Linked DNA regions of Homo sapiens: region 2 is linked to region 1. Evidence: fine-mapped expression QTL. A gene starts in region 1. The other region holds a variant in brackets. All regions are shown on one strand. Distances are from middle to middle.

Region 1 (14,873 bases):
ATTACAAGTAATAAGTATATTTAGATTCCGCACCCCCCCCCCCCGCCGCCTTGTCTCCAGGCAGGTTTCTAACTCACCACCAAGCAAGGGGGACTGCATATCCTTTGTGTAGGAGGCTTCTAAAGATCTTCTCTTCTCTTGAGACTTTCTCCTTTAAAAAAAAAGAAAGAAAATACCTGCAAGTTCTCCAAGGGATGTCTGGGATCACTAAATAGTCTGAGGTGGTGTTTCCCTCAGGCAAGGCTGTGCCCTAGTTAAGAGCATGGAGGTACACTGCCTGCTTGTGAAGCCTGGTGGCTCTCACCGCTGTAGCACTTTAGGAAGGTTACTTAATGCCCCTGGCTCTTTATCTGTAAAATGAAGTTAAGGAATAAATGAGAATGCTTAAACACAGCCCAGGACCTAACACAGAGTAAAAGCTCAAGAATACCCAGAGGGGGTCAGCCTTAGTGGGCTGTAACTTGTATAGGATTTGGGGGTGGGAATACAGAGCAGACATTGCTAATTCATGCTTTGCCTGATCTCAAGAAATAAGAACTCTACCCTAGGCTTACTACCTACGGAGTAAGAACTACTTGGCCCTCTGGGACTGATCTTCAAGCACTGGTCATTGTGGGACCAATAAGGGGCCGGTGTTCAGTAGAAAATACTGGCTTTGGATTAGCATTTTGCTTCTTCCCAAGATCATATGGCCAGCAAGGTGGCCAAATGAGTATCTTCTCTGAATTTGCTTTATTTGTAAGATGGGTCTGCTGCCCACTGAGGGTTAAGTGAAGCCCTGTGCAGGAAAGCTCTGAGGCCCTCTGAGCTGTAGTGGGAGCTCAGTAGGAGCCTGGGTGCCAGCAACCACAGTCCTGGGTGTGCTTTGAGGGGGTCTGCAGGTTGCTGCCCAGGGTGGACGTGGCTGCAGTGACACTTTCTCCTGCAGGTGAGCATGGGTTTATGCGTCTTAGGCATTATTGTGATGGCGAGCACCAATTCTCTGATGTGGACCTTCTTTAGCCGGGGCCTCAGTTTCTCCATGTCTTCAGCCATTGCATCTGTCACAGTGACTTTTTCAAATATCCTCAGCTCGGTGAGTAGCCTGAGGGTGTGGTGCTCTTGTCCTAAATCTGGGTTCTGGGTGAGTTGTCTTTGGATAACCCCTCCTTTCCCAGACAGGAGAAAGGACAGGAACTGAAGCAGAGGTTGGGCTGTGGCTTGACCCCTGGATGAGTGCTCTATTCATGGAGCAAATGTAATTCTAATCATGGAAGAATTCTTAAGTTAGATATGAGTGAAGCCTGACAGTAAAAAGCCTACTTGCTTGCTGTTCCTCCAGGGTGGAGCCCTCATTCTGAAGTCACTGTGCATCCTAGCTGTTTCCTAGGGTTCTGTGTACTCAAGGCTCCATGGCATTTAGAGGGTTGGGATTCCCAGAAACTTTTCTGCCCTGTGTAGTCTGAGGTTGACAAGATGGAGCTGAGCGTAGTCAATCTTGAGTTGAGGGAGAAACAAATACCATGTACCTGCTGTGTCTACCTGCTGGCATCTGCTGGGTCTTTCTTGTGTACTTTGCTGAGGTCCAGTGCAGTGAGGGAGGTAGCCTCTCCACTCATGCAGGGGAGATTGAATAGAGTGACTTGATGAAGGTGACAGCTAGGTTTCAAGCCCAAGGCTTCTGGCTCCAGACCTTTCCTCCTGGCACCCTTAGAAGGAAGTCAGTCCCAGGAGAGTGAGGTTGTGCCCACCTGCTGAAGTTGAGTCCCTCACAGCTATCTTTGTCTCGCAGGCCTTCCTGGGCTATGTGCTGTATGGAGAGTGCCAGGAGGTCTTGTGGTGGGGAGGAGTGTTCCTTATTCTCTGCGGACTCACCCTAATCCACAGGAAGCTCCCACCCACCTGGAAGCCCCTTCCACACAAGCAGCAGTAGCACCACTTGGCTAGACGGACCAGCTGGAAAGATCATGATGGTGGCCCAGCCTTGGGATGTCATGTGGGACTGTATCCTAGGGCGATCCAGTTGTGCAGCCTTCTGACCATCAGCCAAGGGAAGCAGGCCTCTGATGGAGCAGGCTCTGGCTCTGTAAGGAGAGGTGCAGCTGCAGCAGTGTTCTACCGGAAGTGTTTTGATCATCTGTACAGTGCTTTGGATTCTTCCTCCCAGGCCTACCCCAGTGAGCCTTCGCAGATGCTGGAGATCCTGGGGTTGGTCTGCTTTGTGTATGGTACTTGAAACCACGCTGTAATTATTGTCCTGTTGCCAAACAAAAGCCAGTCATGTAACTCTAGAAGCAGTGACTGGTGGGGCTTTCTGACAGTTCCATGCTGATGTATCAGGCCATCTGTGTCATGCTTATGTATTATGGCAAGAAGAGGAAAACTGGATTAATAAATACGTTTTTTGTAAGTTAAAACTACCAGGTACGGTATCTTAATTCTTTCCTTCCCTTTGGAGTAAGAGGGAGCCAGAGTGAGCTGAAATCCCAATGTGGAGGAGGCAGGAGAGTGAGGCAGGTACAGAAGCCTTGTGGCTTCGGTTGCTCTGACACCTGCTAGAGCTTGATCTTGTGGTTACTTCCTGAGGTCACACAGGCTAAGGCTCTTTGAACTGCACAGGGTCTGTTCATTCTCCTGGTGCTCTCAAGGAGAAAAGTTTGACCTCCCTTTGGAGACCTTGTTTTACTTGGGAAAGAAAGTGGTTCAGAGGTCCCTCCATTCCCTGCCACTCTGTTCCTCTAGCGTTTACCTTTAGGGCTCTTCTGTCATTTGCTTTTCTTTCTCAGATTCCCCTTTGGTTTTTTTTTGTTTTTTGTTTTTTTGTTTTTTTGGGTTTTTTTTTTTTGAGACAGTCTCGCTCTGTCACCCAGGCTGGAGTGCAGTGGCGCAATCTCAGCTCACGGCAAGCTCTGCCTCCCGGGTTCGCGCCATTCTCCTGCCTCAGCTTCCCGAGTAGCTGGGACTACAGGCACCCGCCACCATGCCCAGCTAATTTTTTTTATTTTTAGTAGAGATGGGGTTTCACCATGTTATCCAGGATAGTCTCGATCTCCTGACCTCGTGATCTGCCCGCCTCAGCCTCCCAAAGTGCTGGGATTACAGGCGTGAGCCACTGCACCTGGCCCCCTTGTTCTTTTTGTATCTTAGACCATGTGAATGTAATTCCTAGTTCAAAGTGGGCTGTGTGCTGCCTGCACACTTTCCCAGCACAGAGCCTGAAGCCCGGCACTTACCTGCCTCACTTCTCCCCTGGGGTGTCCGAGGGCCCTCTCAGCTCTCCTGAGTCTGATCTCTGGCCCCAAGTCTTCTTCATACATTTCCTGCAGTTGAGAGGGACCTGGTAGCCAGGAGGCTAGGAGAGCGAAGGGTCTTGTCCAGACCCTCCTCCTCGCCCATGTAGCACCTTCATTGCTCTCCTCCCTTACTGTGGTCAGCACAATTGACAGAATGAGCTTACTAAAACCATTCCACGGCTCCTTCTGATGGGGATCTGGCCCTAGCCCACCACTCCAACAAGAGTTCTCTTCCGCAATGACTCCTTAGTACCCATCTCCCTCATGCTAGCCCCACCATGCTGAGTCCCCCCAGACATCTGCAGGTCAGCCATTCTCAAATCCACCATGTCCAGTCCTGCCAACATGTTTTGTACTTGCTCTTACCCTTGCCTTGGGTTCCCTTTACCTTCACCTCTCGCTGGCAAACTCCTGCTCTTCAAAACCCTTGAGCTCCCATGGGGGCCAGGACAAAGCTGTAATTCACAGAATGTTAATCATTTAGCTCCACTTTGACACATTGCCTCCCAGCCAACCCGTGAGGGAGTTACTCTTGTTCCTGTATTAGAGGTGAGGAAACTAAGGCTTGGGGAAGTGGAATAATTTGCCTGACATCACACAGCTGAGGAGTGCCAGAACCACAATGTCAGCCCGATCTGACTGGGCTCAGCTCAGTCCCTACCTCTGTCCTGCTTCCCACACCAACACCTGAAAACTCAGAGAGGCCCTGCAGTAAGGGGCCTGTTCCATACTGTGACTCAGCATGCCCAAACCTCAGAACCCTTTGGTCACCAGCCACCTACCTTTTCTTAGGGGCTCTAGTGTTGATCTCCCTGATCTAGTCTGACCCCACCATTCTACCAGTGAAGAAGCTGAAGGATATTCAAGGCTTTCCAGGGTGTGTTCACCATATGGGTCAGACACCCAGCCAAGGCCAGACCTGAAGGCTGCTGATAGCTGGTGGTCGGCCTCCCTGGGCAGTTAGTGAAAAGGGCAGAAAGAAGTCCATCTTGGAGCAAGCATTGTCCTGAGAGGACCTGGCCTCCCATCCAGACACTTGCTTAATGCATAGAGATGGTTGGTGTTGACGTGGAACCCTATCACTCAATTCAACAAATATGCCTGTATTTGTACAAGATGTACAAGATGTATTTGTAGAAGACGTATATTTGTACAAGATGTAAGATTTTTTCTAAGAGGAAGATCAGTCATTCTTCAAAAAGCAGGAAGATACAACTCTATAGTCATCTAAAAAGTTGAGGAAACGTTCACTGTATTTATTTTCCTCATTTCAGAGGTTTATTGATAAGAATAAACTATATCAATACTATATCAATATTTGTCTTTTTGGTGTGCATCTTGGATGATGGATTGAACTTTGTTTGCTTGGAGCTGGCAATTTGACATCCAGGTTCAAAGGCCTGATAGGTCATTCCTTTCGTTTAATTTTATTTTTTAACTTACTCTTTTTAAAAGTGTGCAATTCAGTAGTATTTTAGTAGATTCACAAAGTTTTCGACCATTACCGCTAGCTAATTCCAGAACATTTTTATCACTCCAAAAGAAATTCTCATACCCATTAGCAGTCATTTTGTATTCCATCCTCCCCCAGGCCCATGGCAATCAAGGATCCACTTTCTGTCTATAGATTTGCCTGTTGTGGACATTTCATATAAATGGATTATACAACATCAATATATGGCCTTTTGGGTCTTTTTTCACCTAGCATAGTGTTTTCAAGGCTCATTCATGTTGTAGCATGAATCAGTTATTCATTCCTTTTTATGACTGAATAATACTCCATTGTGTGGATCTACCACATTATGTTTATACATTCATCTTTTGATAGACATTTGGCTTGTTTCCCTTTTCTATTCTATTCTAATTTTCTATTAGAATAATGCTGCTTTGAACAATTGTGTACACGTTTTTGTGTGAACATGTTTTCAATTCTATTGGGTATATACCTAGGAATGGAATTGCTGATATAACTATGATACAATATGAGATAACATGTACAGAGGAGAGGTCATTTGAGGACATAGCAAGAAGGAGAGAAGGCAAGCCAGGAAAAGGGCCCTCATCAGAACCTGAATTTGCCAGCACATTGATCATGGACTTCCCAGCCTGCAGAACTGTGAGAAAATAAATATCTGTTGTTTAGGTCATGCAGTCTGTGGTATTTGTTATGGCGGCATGAGCTGACTGATACAACCCAAATGGCCATCCATATTCATCTATGGAATACTACTCTTCAGTAAAAAGGAAGAGAGTATTGATACATGCTATCACAAGGAGAATCATAAAATAATTATGCTAAGTGAAAGAAGCCAGACCCAAAAAGAATATATACCATATAGTTCCATTTATATGTAATTAAAAAGAAAAAAAGGCAAAACTTCAGTGACAGAAGGCAGATCAGTGGTTGCTTAGGGCTGGGAATCAGGGCAAGAAGGAACTTTTTAGGATGATGGCTCTTTTCTACATCTTGATCATAGTGGTCATTACACAACTGTATAAAACTAACATTCTATACTTAAAGTGGGTGAATTTTATTGGATATAAACTATACCTCAATAAAGCTAGGGGGAACTCAGTAAGATGCCATTGATGCCATTTCATACAAGATTGGCAAAAGTTACAAAGTTGAACAAGCAAGGCCAATGTTGTGGATCACTGTGAATTCCCATGTGCTACTGCTGGAAGTATAAATTAGTATAACCCTCTGGAAACATTTTACTATCATCTGACAAAACAGAAGATGTGCCTACTGTTTGAGCCAGCAATTCCAGTCCTGGAAACTCTCACTTGTGCACAAGGAGACATGAACACACATGCTTGTTGCAGCAGTGTTTATAACTGAGAAAAATGTAAAACAATCTAATATCAATGGGAGAATAGAGAAGTTATAGCATACAGTGTATTGAACACTATACAGTGGTGACAAGCATGAATTACATGGAAAAATTACATGAAAAAATCTCAAAATCATAATGTAGAGTGAAAAAAAGTAGAAGGGAGTGTTAAGTATGATAATTTTACAAAAAAATTTAAAACCTTCAATACTACTTATTATTTTAGATATTCACGTTTAGTAAGTATTTTTAAATATGCAAGGGAACTTAAATACCAAACTCAGAGTGGTGGTTACTTTGGGGAGGGAGGAAAGGAAATTGGGGTTGGGAAGGGATATATAAGGGGCTGAGAGCTTCAGTTATAACCCATAAGTTTTATTTCTTGAACTTGATGAGGGAGATGTAAGTTTTCATTGCTGTTTTTTTTTGAATTTTTGTAAGGTTTCATAAATGTTTTTAGACAATACTTCACTGATAAATGGGAACGATCACATTTAACAATCATTAGACATACAAATCTTACTGCTGTTGTTTAGCAAGAAAACCCCAAGATCGTCTTTGCTAGCCGATGTGTGCTCTGGGCTCTTTGGGCCTGGATAAGGAATAGCAGGGCCCAGCCCAGAGTCTGGAGGTGTGGTGAATCAGATAGGTTAGGGTGGGAGGTGAGACAGACCATGTTGGTTCCAGTGGAATTGGCTCCAGGGCTGGACTGGGCAGATAATTATTACTCCAAATTCCAGAGCCATCCAGTTCCTTTGGGAAACAAGGGCTTGGAGGGCTCAGATTTCCCCCAAATCCACTCAACTTGTCATAGATTGAGCTGAGATGGGACCCCAGATAGCCTGGCTGAGAGCCTGTCTTGTCTGTACTGCTTCCGTGTTCCCTTGCTGGTCTTCAATAGGGTCCCCAAAGTTCTTCTTGCCTGGAGGCCTGCAGCAGTGAGTCCTGACTGTCACCAGCATGGTCCCTCACAGGGTAGCCCCTCACCAGAGTTTAAAAGTCAGTCCCCTATGCAGTTAGACCTAATGCTACACCAGGGGGAAAATTCAAAAGAAAAAAATACACAATTTAGGCAACAGGGTTCCTAGCTGCATTACTGCTAGCAGCAGTTAGTTGCCTGATAGTTGAGAAATGGTTAGGCAAATATGGTAGAATATCACGTGCCCACGAACAGGGGTGAGCATTTGAAATAGGCGGATCCTAGACAGTGTCCACAAGGCAGCCTGCCAGGCATGGCCTGAAGTGCCAGGTTTGCTCCATGCAGTGTAAACACATTTGTGTACAATGGCAAGCGCTAGGAGTGGCTTAAAAAGAGGTGACTTCGGGGTTTATTGGATTCTTTTATTTTTCTCCTATAAAGTTGTTTACATATATAATAGGAGTCAGATGAGAGATGAATTTATAGTTTCAGATATAAGAAGAAAAGATTTTGCTCCCACAAATCTGTGGATGCGTATTTACTAACTCCTCCCTGTCTCCACACAAAAAAAGGGGGCGGGGATGCATCAGGATGCCTATCTTTATGATTTAGCTCCGAGCTTAGCACCATGAACAGCAGCTGTGGTGCCTAGAGTCCAACAGGGCCTCAGTTGTTCTTTCATCCTCAGAATTGGGGGGTGGATGCAGAGGTGGGTCAGGGATTAGGCTTGAATCCCCAAAACCAATGTGTATTGGGCTTTCCTTCCAAAAGGGACTCCCAGCATGCGTTGGGAGAAGAGGACACAGCCTCCCCTGACCTCTGCAGGAGGCACCTGCCCCACAGGCACAGGCATGGGGCCGCTCCCAGGCTTCCACCTGAGCACCCTGTCCTGTTTGCTTATTTGTTCATTTATTCATGCATTCCCTCATCTGCTGAGCACTCTGTGCCATGCTATGGGCTAGGGACACAAAATGAGAAGATTCCATTCCTGGCTAAGGTCCTCTATGAACTTCATCTTGAAACGTGTCTTCTGTTCCCCACCTTACCTGGTGGTTTTCAGGCTCTTCTTGCCTGATTTTTCCTTTTCTCCCTCCTCCCCAGCTCCATCATCTGTGGATTAATGTGAAGTGTAGACCATGCCAACTTTTCTGGGACAGCACATTCAGAGCCTCCTGTCCCATGGTGGGGCCTGTGTCTGGTCCTCTTGGAGAGCAGAGAGCAGAGGGTCTTGAGTGGGCTGCCTCTGATCCCAATATGCCTGGAGTTGGCCACCAGGTGCTAGTGCAATACAGTGGCTGCAGTTCAGCAGCTGGTGGGGGAGGGGGATGCTGATGGCCCCAGTGGCCTGTGACTAGACCATGGTGTCAGCTGTGGCCCCAGACAGGAAACATGAGAAAAGATGATCCTTTGGGACCAGCTGACAGATAAAATGCCACATGCACAAGGAACTAAATAAGGGCCGACTCTGCTGAGGCCCGGAAGTTCTGCTGCAGGAAGAGGGAAGGGAGGCTCACGGGGATCCTCTCCTGATGCCCAGGTGGCTGCCTCTCTCTAGGCTGCACTTTTTCCAGCTGTGAAATGAGGTTGTTGGGATGGGGGGGGTCCTTTGTAAGGTCCGCGGTGTAACTCATTTCTTGCAGAGAATTTTGAATGCCTTTGCCTCTTCACAGCATCCTGCTTCAGACACTTGACCTGTGGCGTGGGTGTTATTATTTCCCACCTCCCAGATGAAGAAACAGAGGCACAGAGAAGTAACTTCCCAAGGTCACACAGTGGATCTGTAGAGGACCCAGGATGTAGGCCCAGTTCTGTCTGACCCAAAGTCTATTTCTTTTAGACACTTTTATACTCACTCTGGTACCCTGGATTCTCTGGCCTGGAAGGCACTGGCGAAAGCTCATCTTGCACAAGCCCCTTATTTGTCAAAAATGATGAAAGAAGCTCAGAGAGGTGAAGCAACTAAAACCCGGACCCTCTCACCCCTAGGCCAGGACTTTTATTTAGAGGCTTTTTCCATTTAAGTAGTGAATTTATTCTTAAATAGGTAATTCATGCACATGGTGCTAAATTCTGATGATGTAAAAGGAAATACAGAGAAAAGCAAGCATCCTTCTCCCACTCCTGAGCCTGTAATCATAGGGCCTAGGGCTTCTCTGCAGACAGAACCCAGCCAAGACTTTTCGTAAATGCCATGTGCACTTCAGGGCTTGGTTTGTTCTATTATATTTAGGGATGCGGTGCTGAGATGCTTGCCTGCAGAACAGCAAAAACCTCTGACTTCATTATTGTTATTCAGAGTAACCAGGGTCATTGCTCTCTGGCTTGCCTTAAAGCCAGCAAAGGCAATTGCCCATCCCTGGGCTTTTGGTCTGGAAGAGACCGTTGGCATCATTATTCAGCCCCCTCACTTTTCAGGTAAGGAGCTAATGAAGACAACATTCCCAGTGACACACGGCAAGTTACTGTGGTGTTGGGGTTTCAGTGTCAGGAGTCTCCTCTCTTCCTCTGGCATTTCTGCTACTATGCCAGGCTGGCTCCTTTCAGTAGACATAACATCATTGAAAAATACCACAAGTGCCCCTGTGGAGAGCAGAGCAGATAGCCATTAAAATTACAAAAGCTTATGCTTTTTGGCCCAACATTTCCACTTCAAGGCATTCAATTCTTCCTATAGATACACTCATGTGAGGGTAAAATGATCTCTGTATAACCTTATTCTTTGCAACACTGATTGTAATAAGGAAATATTGGAAGCAACCCAGATGCCTATGGGTGGGAGGTGAGTTACATAAATTAGGGACCATCCACACAAACAGAATATGTGCAGCTGTGAAAAGACTGGGCCACCTCTCCATGTGCAATAGGAACAGCTCCATCTTGCCAGGCGTGGTGGCTCACACCTGTAATCCCAGTACTTTGGGAGGTGAAGGTGGGGCGGATCCCTTGAGCCTAGGCATTCCAGACCAGCCTGGGCAATGCAGTGATATGCTCTCATTGTGTAAATAAAACAAAATAATACATTATTTGCTTTGCAGATGCCACTGCCGCCAGGAGCCCTGTAACATCAGCCATCGTCAACCCCACCGTGTTCTTCAACATCACCGTTGACGGCAAGCCTTTAGACCTGCGTCTCCTTCAAGCTGTTTGCAGACAAGGTTCCAAAGCCAGCAGAAAACTTTTGTGCTCTGAGCACTGGAGAGAAAGGATTTGGTTATAAGAGTTCCTGCTTTCACAGAATTATTCCAGGGTTTATGTGTCAGGGTGGTGACTTCATACGCCATAATGGCACTGGTGGCAAGTCCATCTATGGGGAGAAATTTGATGATGAGAACTTCATCCTAAAGCATACAGGTCCTGGCATGTTGTCCATGGCAAATGCTGGACCCAATACAAATGGTTCCCAGTTTTTAATCTGCACTGCCAAGACTGAGTGGTTGGATGGCAAGCTTGTGGTCTTTGGCAAGGTGAAGGCATGAATATTGTGGAGGCCATGGAGTGCTTTGTGTCCAGGAATGGCAAGACCGGCCAGAAGATCACCATTGCTGACTGTGGACAGCTCTTATAAGTTTGACTTGTGTTTTATCTTAACCACCAGACCATTCCTTCTGTAGCTCAGGGGAGCACCCTCCACCCCATTTGCTCCCAGTATCCTAGAATCTTTGTGCTCTCGCTGCGGTTCCCTTTGGGTTCCATGTTTTCCTTGTTCCCTTCCATGCCTAGCTGGATTGCAGAGTTAAGTTTATGATTATGAAATAAAAACTAAATAACAAAATAATAATAATAGTACATTATTTGCTTCTCAGTGCATACAACATCTCTGGAAAGATCTAAAAGAAACTGGTAGTAGGATTCAACAAGGTGGACAGGGGGCATTTTTTTCCATTTTGAACCATGTGGATGCATTATATATTCAAAATGTAAAACAAAAAACTCACAAGCATCTCTTACTTTTTCAACTTGAAGAAAAGAGAAGAAGAAGAAAACCCTAAAGTCAGTAAAGGTTAGCCTGGGTTCCTAGACTTAAGCTTGATAGTAACCAGAATGTCAGGCCACATGTGGTGTAGGTCATAGGGTCCTGGCTTTTGGTCACCCACTGTTAGGCTCATATAACAGACAAGGAGGTGCCATTGTCCGTTGTCTGTCCCTTTTACATCAGCTCATCTTGGCTCCTGATTTCCTGGGTCTGATATGGAAGATTCCGGGATTTTATTATTTCTAATCAACATCGCCTTCCCAAACCCCGCCCCTTGGCAGCCATAGCAAGGCCACATCTAGCCCAGGATCACATAAAAAGGGCTGTTTCCTCCCCTGAGGACCGACTGTGTGGAAGCACCAGGCATCAGAGATAGAGTCTTCCCTGGCATTGCAGGAGAGAATCTGAAGGGATGATGGATGCATCAAAAGGTGAGTGGGTGAAATCTCCATGGAGCCCCACATGCCCCTTCAGCCAGCTGGCCCTAAACTGCTCTCTTGCCTCTGCCGGGTGCCTGGGGCCATTGCCCTCTCACCCTGACTTGTGGCCCTGGTGCTGCTTGCTTTCTGTCTCATCCCTTTTTAGAAAACCCACAAACTTTTCATTTAGGCATAATTTCAGATTTACAAAAAGATTGCAAGAATAAAAAGAAGAATTTCCATATATCCTTTATCCAGATTCCCTAAATTATTACTGCATTTGCTTTATCCTTCTCGATCAGTGGACAGATAGATGATATAGACAGATAGATAGACAAATATATATTTTTTGAACTCTTGAGAGTAAGTTGCAGATATTACATTATTAAATATTTTGGTGTGTATTTCCTAAAGACAAGGACATTCTCTTACGTAACCAATACAATTATGAAGACCAGGACATGAACACCATTTCAATACTGTTATCCAACCCACAGATTTTATGCAGATTTCATCAACTGTCCCAATAATGTCATTTATAGCAGAAGAAAATCCTGGGTTAGGCTTTGCATTCCGTTGTTGTGCCTCTTCGGTCTCCTTTGTCTGGAATAGTTCTTCTGTCATTCTTGGAGTTTTGTGACTTCAACACTTTTGAAGAGTACAGACCAGTTATTTTGTAGAATGTCTCTCAATGTGTCCTGTCCTTTCTCAAGGTCACCTGATGGATTTCCCTACTGCAGAGGGTCTGTCTGCTGCTGTCAGCAGTGTCATTGCTTCTCAGAGTGGGGAATAGCAGAGCGGAGTCATGTGCCAGGCTCTGTGTCCCATGAGGATGCAGCCGCCTACCACCACCAAGAGCAGACACCAGAGCCCTCAGTTTTACTTCAGGGAGTCCGGGTGCTGCTAGGGAACAACGAGGCTGGGTTTGAACCCCTCTGCTGACTCCCCAGCCCACAAGCCCTCTGTAACCTCCCAGCAGGGTTTGCTCAGCAGCCTTCTCTCTTGCTTGAGAAGCTGCTTGATAAGCCAAGGAATGGCTGCTTTGAAACTCTGCAAAGGGACTAAGCCAGACCCTCCTAGTTTCCACCTTCTTTTTTGGAGGGTGACATTGCGAAATAAATCAGACTCTTCTTTTTAGTCCCAAGGCCACAGAGTTTTGAATTCCTCCTTAGATGGCTGACGCCTCAGCTAGACTCAGTCTTGGAGGGTACAGAGTCCTTAGGACTGAGAAAGGGTGGTGTGGTGTGATGGGAAGCACCTGCTGATTTGAGAGAAGATTCATGTCTAAATAGCCCTGTGGCTTTGGGCAGGTTACATCAATCCCGTGAAAGCACTATATAAATTACTGAGGACTACCTGAAGGAAAGGTAGTCCTGACCCACACTGTCATTTTCAAGAGGTGTGACCTGTTCACTGGGGAGGTTTGATGACTTGACTGAGGTCCCAGCCATGGGTGGCAGAGCTGGGACACAAACCCGGCGTGTGTTCATTTCATGCCACACTATGCTGCCTCCCTGCTGGGCACAATTTGACTTTACTCTCAAGGTCTAAATCACCAAAGACAGTCATCTCCTGGCCACCAGTGTTGGGGTGTTGGTGAGGGGAGCTGACGCTCCCTGAGGTGTCCTTTCTGATGGGCTTGTGCAAGTAACCATCACATGCCACCTTACAACATTAGCAAGTTGTGATGACTCCATGGTGTTTTCATGAATATGATTTCATTTGTTCTTCCAACCACTCTAGGAGGTCAGGACATCCAAATAGGGACCTGGAAGATGGTGATATGTGTGGGATAAAGGTAGGATTTCATATAAATGGAGGAAATGAGAAATTGTGCACTTTATGGTATTAGGACAACTGGTTAGTATTTAGAGAAAAACAAAGCCAGATATCTATCTCATGGCTTATCCCACAACGAATCCCAGAAAGGTCGAAGACGAAACTGTAAAGGCAATAGAAGAAAATGAAGGCAATATGAAAAATAATCTTAGAGTAGAGAAGGTGTTACAAAGGAAAATAGAAAACCTAGAAACATAAAGGAAAAGAACAGTAAAACTGACTCCAGAAAAATTAAAAATATGTGTAAGACAAAACCTCCAGAGTCAGAAGGTAATGGAACTGTGAAGGGTACTTTCAACACATATGAGAAGCAAATGCTGTTCTGTAGTATAAAAAGAGCTCTCAGATCTATAAGAAAATGACCAACATCCCAAAATATACATGGACAAAGAGCAGTATTAGGTAGTTCAAAGAAAAAGAAATATAAATTGTAATATATGAAAAGATGCTCAACCTTACTTGTAACGAGGGTGGTCATGAAATAAAACTGAAACAGCAGGCCAGGTATGGTGGTTCATGCCTATAATCCCCAAAATTTGGGAGGCTGAGGTAGGAGGATTGCTTGAGCCCAGGAGTTCGAGACCAGCCTGGAAAACATAGTGAGACCCTGTCTCCACAAAACAATTTAAAAATTAGCCGTGGCCCAGCAAGGTGGCTCATGCCTGTAATCCCAGCACTTTGGGAAGCCAAGGTGGGCAGATCACTTGAGATCAGAAGTTAGGGACAAGCCTGGCCATCATGGTGAAACCCCGTCTCTACTAAAAAATACAAAAATTAGCCGGGTGTGGTGGGGTACACCGGTAATCCCAGCTACTTGGGTGACTGAGGCATGAGAATTGCTTGAACCTGGGAGGCGGAGGCTGCAGTGAGCTGAGACTGCACTCCAGTCTGGGCAACAGAGCGAGACTTTGTCTCAAAAATAAATAAATAAATAAAAATAAAAATTAGCCAGACATGGTGGTGCATATCGGTAGTTCCAGCTACTCAGCTACTCAGGTTCAAGGCTGCAGTGAGCCATGATTGCAACACTGCACTTCAGCCTGGGTGACAGGCCAAGACTCTGTCTCTTAAAAAAAAAAAAGGTTATATAAAAGCAAAACAGCAATGAGATTTCATTTTTTCATTTATCAGATTAGCCAAGATTAAAAGTTTAATAGTAAATAGCTTTAAAAAGGCATCTTCTCATCTTTTTGTAGGAGTATCACTGGTGCAGTCGCTAGAAGGCTCTCTGGCAACATTTGCTGAAATTAAAGATGCCCATATCCTGTGACACAGCAATTCTGCTTTGGAAGATTTCTCTTACAAATATTGTCACACATGAGTGCAAAGATACATGTACAAGGAAGTACATTGTAGCATATAAGATTTTAAATGGTCTACATGTCCATCCAGGGGGATAATAGCTACTAAAAAGTAACAAGGTTGAGACCAGCCTGGGCAACATAAGGAGACCCCTTCTTCACAAAAAATGAAAAAATTAGCTGGGTGTGGTGATGCATGCCTGTAGTGCCAGCTACTCAGGAGGATGAGGTGAGAGGATTGCTTCAGCCCAGGAGGTCGAGGCTGCAGTGAGCTGTGATCACACCATTGCACTCCAGCCTGGGAAACAGAATGAGA
Region 2 (8,000 bases), 28 kb after region 1:
AGGGCCAATGCCTTCGTGCAGCCATGAGGCAGAGAAGCTGGGGTGTGAGGATGCCAGACACCAGATGCTTCCCACCTCCCCTCCCCCAAGATTTGACAACAAAAAACTCCTGGGAAATGCCAGGCATTTCACAGCTGCTTGAGTTTCTCCTCCTCCCCCTGGGTCTGGACGCCTAGGACAGGATGGAAGTAGGGACAAGGGAGGAAGGACTCCCAGCTGGCGAGGCTCCCACTGTGTGCTCTGTGCAAGGTGCGCCGAGTGCCCTCTCCACCCTCACTCATTCCTAGAAGGCCCTCAGCATCCTCTCCTCACACATGAGGACCAGAGGGAAATGAAATGGAAGGGAGTAGCTGGCAAGGAGACAGCCAAACGAACCGCAGGAGGGGTAGGGAAGAAGGAATCACCTGAATCCTAGGGAGTTTCCCCTCTTAGAAAATCAAGGGGTGGGCCGGGCACGGTGGCTCACACCTGTAATCCCAGCACTTTGGGAGGCCGAAGCAGGCAGATCATGAGGCCCGGAGATCGAGATCATCCTGGCTAACACAGTGAAACCCCGTCTCTACTAAAAATACAAAACATTAGCCAGGCGTGGTGGCACGTGCCTGTAATCCCAGCTACTTGGGAGGCTGAGGCAGGAGAATCACTTGAACCCGGGAGACGGAGGTTGCAGTGAGCCGAGATGGCGCCACTGTACTCCAGCCTGAGCGACAGAGTGAGACTCCATCTTGAAAAAGAAAAAAAGAAAATCAAGCGGTGATTTTAAGAAGCCCAAAGAGTGACTGGGTATGGAGGCTCACACCTGTAATCTCAGCACTTTGGGAGGCCAAGGTGGGAGGATGGCTTGAGGCCAGGAGTTCAAGGCCAGCCTGGGCAACATAGGGAGACCTGGTCTCTATAAAAAATAAACAAATTAGCTGGGCATGGTGATGCATGCCTATAGTCCCAGGCAGAGCTGTGGGGAGGGGGGACTGCAGTTGGAGAGGGAGGTGGGTGGATCACTTGAGTCCAGAAGGCTAAGGCTTCAGTGAGCAGTGATTGTGCCACTGTACTGTACCCTCTCTCAAAAAAATAAAAAATAAAATAAAAATAAAAAGAATCTCAAAGAATTGTAACCACAAAACTCCCCCAGACTCCTTCTGGAACATAAACATTGTGGTCTATTCCTTTTATTTTGGTAGTTTTTCCCTCAGGTTACAAAAGTAACACATGTACTTCAACTCTGTAAATATACAGATATTTATGGATAATTACAGATTGAATCATCCAGTTTAGATGGTAAATTTTATGAGATATAAATGATATCTTGATAAAGTGGCTTACAGTAAATAGAATTTCAAAAGTAACGTGCTTATCACAAAAGACTTAGGAAACACAGAAATGTGGAAAGAAAATAAAATTATTCATAACCTCCTCCCTCAGTGATAATGACTTAACATTTTAGTGTATTTTATTCTATTATCTATTACTAAGGCTTACATAGTTGTAATGCTATTTGTTCACAATTTTGTAGCCTGTTTCATTTATTCATTTATTTATTTATTTTTATTATTATTATTTTTTTGAGACAGAGTTTTGCTCTTGTTGCCCAGGCTGGAGTGCAATGGCACGATCTTGGCTCACTGCAACCTCCGCCTCCTGAGTTCAAGCGATTCTCCTGACTCAGCTTCCCGAGTAGCTGGGATTACAGGCATGCACCACCACGCCCGGCTAATTTTGTATTTTTAGTAGAGACAGGGTTTCTCCATGTTGGTCAGGCTGGTCTTGAGCATCCGACCTCAGGTGATCCACCTGCCTCGGCCTCCCAAAGTGTTGGGATTACAGGCGTGAGCCACCGCACCCGGCCTGTTTCATTTATTTGACTTGATTACAAAGGAATTTTCCCCATGGTATTAAAAACTTCTTATACTTCCTTTTAGTGGCTGCATGCTAGAGCTCTATAAACTTACTTAACTACTGTCCTGTGGCAGGACATTTAAATGGTTTCTAATTTTCAGTGCTGTGGTGGACTTTTTTATGAGACTGTAGGCAGGGGAGATGGGTTACGCTACAGGGTGGCTGTGACATGCAAATTAGATGGTATGTGTTAAGTTTCTGACACAGGGCAAAGTCTTAACTGCCTCTTTCTTCATTTCCCAAAATAGTTTGAGAAAAATGTCCTGGACTGCTGCATTTCCCTGCTGACTGAGAGCTCCCTCAAGCCCACAGATAGGAGGGACCCCGTGCTGGTGTGCAGGGCCATGTGTGCTATGGTAGGTATGGAAAGCCTGGGCTGATGCTGTCTTGTACTTGCCAATTGCTCAGCCTTTTTCTGTTTTTCCTCATCTAAACTGTAAGCTCTTTGAAGTACACCACTGTGCTATGGCCAATCAATTGTTCAAAACTATTAAGAAATAGACATTGCTGAAATCTGTTCTGAGCGCAGGTTTTCTTTTCTTTTTTTTTTTTTTTTTTTTTGAGACAGAGTCTCATTCTGTCACCCTGGCTGGAGTGCAGTGGCACGATCTTGGCTCACTGCAACCTCCACCCATCCAGGTTTTAAGCAATTCTCTGCCTCAGCCTCCGGAGTAGCTGGGATTACAGGCACATGCCACCACGCCCGGCTAATTTTTTGTATTTTTAGTAGAGACGGGGTTTCACCATCTTGGCCAGGCTGGTCTTGAACTCCTGACCTCGTGATCCACCCGCCTCGGACTCCCAAAGTGCTGGGATTACAGGCGTGGGCCACCGCGCCCGGCTTTCAAGTCAGACCTGAGTCTGAACTCCAGCCCTGCCACTTATGGGCTGACGTTAGGTGTAAATGGCTTCAACTGTCTGAGCCTCAGTTTCCCCCATCTGCAAAATGATATTAATACAGAAGGTCCTCTTTCTACCTGCAAGCTGGGCTCCAGTTGGGTGAGCAAACTGTTGCAGTTCACTTGGGACTTTTCTGGTTTTAGCACTAAGAATACTGTGTTCCAGGAAACCCCTCAGTCTTGGGCAAACAGGATGGTTGGTCACTCTATTCTGCCTGGCCACTTGGAAGTCAGTTTGTTCAGAGTGGCAGTTCTCAAATATTTTGGTTTCAAGACCTCTTTGCACTTTTAAAAATTATTAAGGACCCCAAATAAGTTGTATTTATATGGTTTATATTTACCAATATTTACTGTATTAGAAATTAAAACTGAAAAGGTTAAAACTATTTATTCTAAAAGAATAATTCCATTACATGTTAACATAAATAACGTATTTTTATTTTTAAAAACCTATGTTTTTCGAAGCATAAAATATGTAGTGAGAAGAGTGGCATTGTTTTCCATTTTTGCAAATCTCTTTAATGTCTGGCTTGCTAGAAGTCAGCTGGAATTTCATATCTGCTTCTGCATTCATTGTTTTAGTTGGAATATATGAACATCTGGCCTCACACGGATACGTAGATTTAAAAAGGCAGAGGACGGCCGGGCGTGGTGGCTCAGGCCTGTAATCCCAGCACTTTGGGAGGCCGAGGCAGGCAGATCACGAGGTCAGGAGATCGAGACCATCCTGGCTAACATGGTGAAACCCCATCTCTACTAAAAATACAAAAAATTAGCTGGGTGTGGTGGCACACACCTGTAGTCCCAGCTACTGGGGAGGCTGAGGCAGGAGAATCACTTGAACCCGAGAGGCAGAGGTTGCAGTGAGCCAAGATCGCACCACTGTACTCCAGCCTGGGTGACAGAGCGAGACTCTGTCTCAAAAAAAAAAAAAAAAAAGAAGCGGGGCGGGGGCAGGAATATTCCCATAGCCTTTTCAGATAATGGAAGATACTATACTGAAGCTCTGTAAGTGGCAGTTTCTTAAAGTTGGTTGCAATGTGGAATCTGAAACCACGATTTTTCATCCTTTGTACACTTATGAGAGAATGAGAGTGAAGAAGGCAAATATTACCTTGGGATTATTATGCAAGTAGTTTTGATCACAGAACTTGGAACTCCCAGGGATCTCCCAATGCCAGTGAGGACCACTCTCCAAAGGTCCACTGAGTTCAGCCAACTGGCTGCTCTTGCCATCTGTGGGTGGCAGGCAGACGTATGTTCATCTCCAGGTGAGTCTGTGAGCTGAACTGCTGCGACAGACGGATCTTAAGTAGGGGCTCTTGAAATGCCCTCCTTGCAGAGTGGCTGTGAGCCTGTGTCTGTTGCACGTGGTATGCCTCATAAATGCTGGGGCTCCTGTTCCCCTGCACCTTAGGGGCTGATGGGATTACCGGGGGCCCTCACGCTGACTCTCTGGGGCCCAGGAGTCCACCATGCCTGCTCTTTCCCCTTCACCCCCATGCTGGTATGTTCATTCTCTAGCCCAGGGGCCAGCAGGTGGCCAGGCTGGATGCTGAGAAAGAACAAGTAAAGGAGACCAAGTCATTAGCAGGCAGAACTTGCCATGAGGGGCTCTAGTTCTCAGTGGTGCAGGTGGACTGGCACGTACCTGGCTGCTTCTCCTTTCAAGCTCCATGACTCTGGACAAGATTCTAAACCTCTTTGGGCCTCTGTTATCTCATCTTTTGGGTGATTATGAGGTCTCAAT[A/G]ACACACAACAAGTGCCCAGCCCAGGGTCTGACACGCTTTGGGCCCACGAGTAGCCTATTCCCAGGTCATTCTTATGCGTGGTGGGGTTTGGGAAGCAATGGGCTAAGCCGCTGCTTGTTTCAGTGATGAGGAAACCAGCCGGGGGAGAAGGGGCAGTTCGCCAAAGGCTGCACAGTGAAGTGGTGGTTGAGCCAGCTGTGCTGACTCCTGGTGCAGTGCTCCTTCCTAGTGCCCTGCCAGCCACCTCCTCAGGCTGTGAGGCAAGCATGGGCAATTCAGAACTCCAAGGTGTTCCAGGAGTCACTTCCAAAATTAGGTTACTGCAGATTAGCTTCCACGCTCGGGAGTCTGAGAACCCCAGCCCACTTCAGAGGCCCTCCCCTTTTCCAGGTTCCCTATAAAGGTTGCCCCTTCACCCTTAGAAATTCGTGGCTATCCATGGGCCTCCTGGATCTGTGAATTTCTGACTAGCAGGCAGAGCTTCTGGCAGGGTCGCCTAAAGACGACTCCCACACCAGGCAGGGAACCTCGGCGCAGCAGTGAGTGCGTTCATTATCCATTGCTAAGTAATAAGTTACCCCAAGACACTGTGGCTGAAACAACAAACATCCATTATCTCCCATGTCTGTGGGTCAGGAATCCAGGTGTGGTTTAGCTGAATGTTCTGGCTGAAGATCTCTGGGGGAGGACCTACTTCCAGGCTCACTCACCTAGCTGCGAGCAGCCTCAGGTCAGGGCAGCTCATAGCATGGCAGCCAGCTTCCATCAGAGTGAGCAAATAAGAGAGGGGGTGCCCAGGCTGGAAGCCACAGCCTTTGTCACCTCATTTCAGAAGTGACAGCCATCACTTTTGCTGCATTCTGTTGGTTAGAAGTGAGTCACTGGGTCTAGGAGAGGGGATTACTGGGGACCATCTCGGTGACTGCCTACCATGCCTGGGCACAGAAATGTGCTTTGTTCCGCAGGGGGATAGAGCCTCGTGCATCAGGAGTTTTGAAAGTCCTGATGTCCTTTGGGCTCAGCGTCACTCCCCTTCTTTCCCTATCTCCGCCCTCCCCTACATTGCTCTATAGACGGCTTGTGTCTAGCAGGCGCTGACAGGCTGGGGCCGCTTAATTTCGCAGGAGGACGCAGCAGCCGGACCAGGGCAGTGGCTGGGTGACAGTTAAGATGGGAGGTATTTCCTGCTTTGCCTAGGACCCTTTGCCTGTCTCTCTTTCATCTGTTTTCATTCCGTCTGACCACTCTTGAGTCTGGCGGTGGCCTCTGCTCTCTCTCTGATTTTGATGAATGAAGAGGCTTGTCCAGCCACAGGACCTGAGAGGTCACGGGAGGCCCAGGCCACACCATTGTTTGAGACTTCTTGTAAATTAAAACTGAACAAACTCCCAAACAGGATTCAGAAATTGTAGCATACTATAAGGGTTTTAGTTAAACAAACGGACATCTTTAACATCCTGGGAAACATGAGGCACTGTAACTGTGCTTTTCACAAGGCATGATGAGGTTTGCAAAGGACGTTAGTGTGCAGGCCAGGAGGGGATGGGTGGATGTGGTCAAAGCCAGGCCACCACCAGATCAAAGATTTGTGACTGTGTCACCTTTCATGTTTTCGGAGGGTTCCTCTGCACCTGCCTGTACAACCTTCTTTAGAGATTCCATTAAGTGCTTTCAAAGGTGAACTCACAAGGCTTTGTCCTCTCTCTGGTTTTAATAAGGTGGAAAGGATCGTCTGGCCAGGGCTCCTCAGGGGTTAAGAGAGGTGCAGGCCACTGACAATTTAAAAACGGAAGATGCCAAAACAGGCATAGGCTTAACCCAGGTCATCCTCAAAACAACCTAAAGGGACCGGGCATAGTGATTCACACCTGTAATCCCAGCACTTTGGGAGGTTGAGACAGTTGGATTACTTGAGCTCAGGAGTTTGAAACCAACCTGGCCAACATGGTGAAACCCTGCCTCTACAAAAAACTACAAAAATTAACCAAGTGTGGTGGCGTGCGCCTGTAGTCCCAATTACCTGGGTGGCTGAGGTGGGAGGATCACCTGAGCCCAGGAAGTTGAGGCTGCAGTGAGCCGAGCTCACACCACTGTACTCCAGCCTGGGCTACAGAGCAAGATCCTCTCTCAAAAAACAAACAAAACCAACCTAAAGGTAGGTGTTGTAATGATCATCATTTTACAAGGGAGGAAACTGAGGCATACAGCAGTGAGCATCCTCCCCGGTCACTCAAACAGCTGGCATGCTCCTTGGCCCTTCTGGGCACCCCACCTGTTCTGGAAAGCCCACGTCCTCCAAGTACTCTGAGACATTATGAGGTGTCCACTTTGGGGGCTGGGTGGCCAAGCTGGGCTGGCAGCACCTTGTTCTTCTGAGGGGCGGACACTGACCCCACCCCTACGTGTGTGGCAGATGAGCTTTGAGAAAGGCCAGGGCGTGCTCATTGGGAATTGGACTGGGGACTACGAAGGTGGCACAGCCCCATACAAGTGGACAGGCAGTGCCCCGATCCTGCAGCAGTACTACAACACGAAGCAGGCTGTGTGCTTTGGCCAGTGCTGGGTGTTTGCTGGGATCCTGACTACAGGTAAGTGGCAGATCCAGGGGCTGAGGGGAGAGGTCCCAAGGGAGGGACTCCCAGCCCCCACAGTTGCCAACCACCCCACCCTGGATCATTTCAGTGCTGAGAGCGTTGGGCATCCCAGCACGCAGTGTGACAGGCTTCGATTCAGCTCACGACACAGAAAGGAACCTCACGGTGGACACCTATGTGAATGAGAATGGCGAGAAAATCACCAGTATGACCCACGACTCTGTCTGGTAGGGTTCCTCCTTCTCAACCTGCCCTGTCTCCTTCTCCCAGGAATTTTCTTTTTTCTTTTTAGAAACAGGGTCTCTCGCTAGTTTGCCCAGGCTGGTCTTGAACTGGTGTCAAGCAGTCCTCCTGCCTTAGCCTCCCAGGTAGCTGTGATTCCAGGTGCAAGCCACCATGCGTGGCATCCCAGGAGTTTTTTAGCCCAAGCCCAGTCTCCAGGCCCTCCCAACCCAGAGATTCTGCTGAGCTGTGGGGCCCCTTCAGCCTCCCTCAGAGACTGATTCAAGTTGTAGGCCAGTGCTCACTGTTCCTGAAATTCAATATTTTTCAACATTTGGCCTTGGACAATCTGTGCTGGAATCACCTGGGGGTGATTGTTAAAAAATGCAGATTCTTGGCCAGGCATGGTGGCACATGCCTGTAATCCCAGCACTTTGGGAGGCTGAGGTGGGTGGATCACGAGGTCAGGAGATTGTGACCATCCTGGCCATGGTGAAACCCCATCTCTACTAAAAATACAAAAATTAGCTGGGCATAGTGGCACGTGCCTGTAATCCCAGCTACTTGGTAGGCTGAGGCAGGAGAATCACTTGAACCCGGGAGGCAGAGGTTGCAGTGAGCCGAGATCGCACCACTGCACT

What was found. PIP is the estimated chance that this variant, and not a neighbour inherited with it, causes the effect.
Region 2: its variant is fine-mapped to the expression of TGM4 in testis (GTEx, PIP above 0.99).

What each region holds. Positions count from the first base shown.
Region 1 is chr3:44,863,269-44,878,141 of GRCh38, forward strand. It overlaps TGM4 (transglutaminase 4), which reads left to right and starts at 11,340. Exons shown (of 14, transcript NM_003241.4): 1 at 11,340-11,429. The coding sequence starts at 11,411. TMEM42 (transmembrane protein 42) reads left to right here. Exons shown (of 3, transcript NM_144638.3): 2 at 929-1,075; 3 at 1,772-2,396. The coding sequence ends at 1,912. It also overlaps a transcript of KIF15 not described here and the pseudogene PPIAP18.
Region 2 is chr3:44,894,568-44,902,567 of GRCh38, forward strand. TGM4 (transglutaminase 4) reads left to right here. Exons shown (of 14, transcript NM_003241.4): 6 at 2,142-2,249; 7 at 6,957-7,131; 8 at 7,226-7,364. Among named protein-coding and RNA genes, the nearest start is that of TGM4, 24 kb to the left of the region's middle. RefSeq lists an enhancer at 3,981-4,522. The variant A/G (reference allele first, on the strand shown) is at 4,543.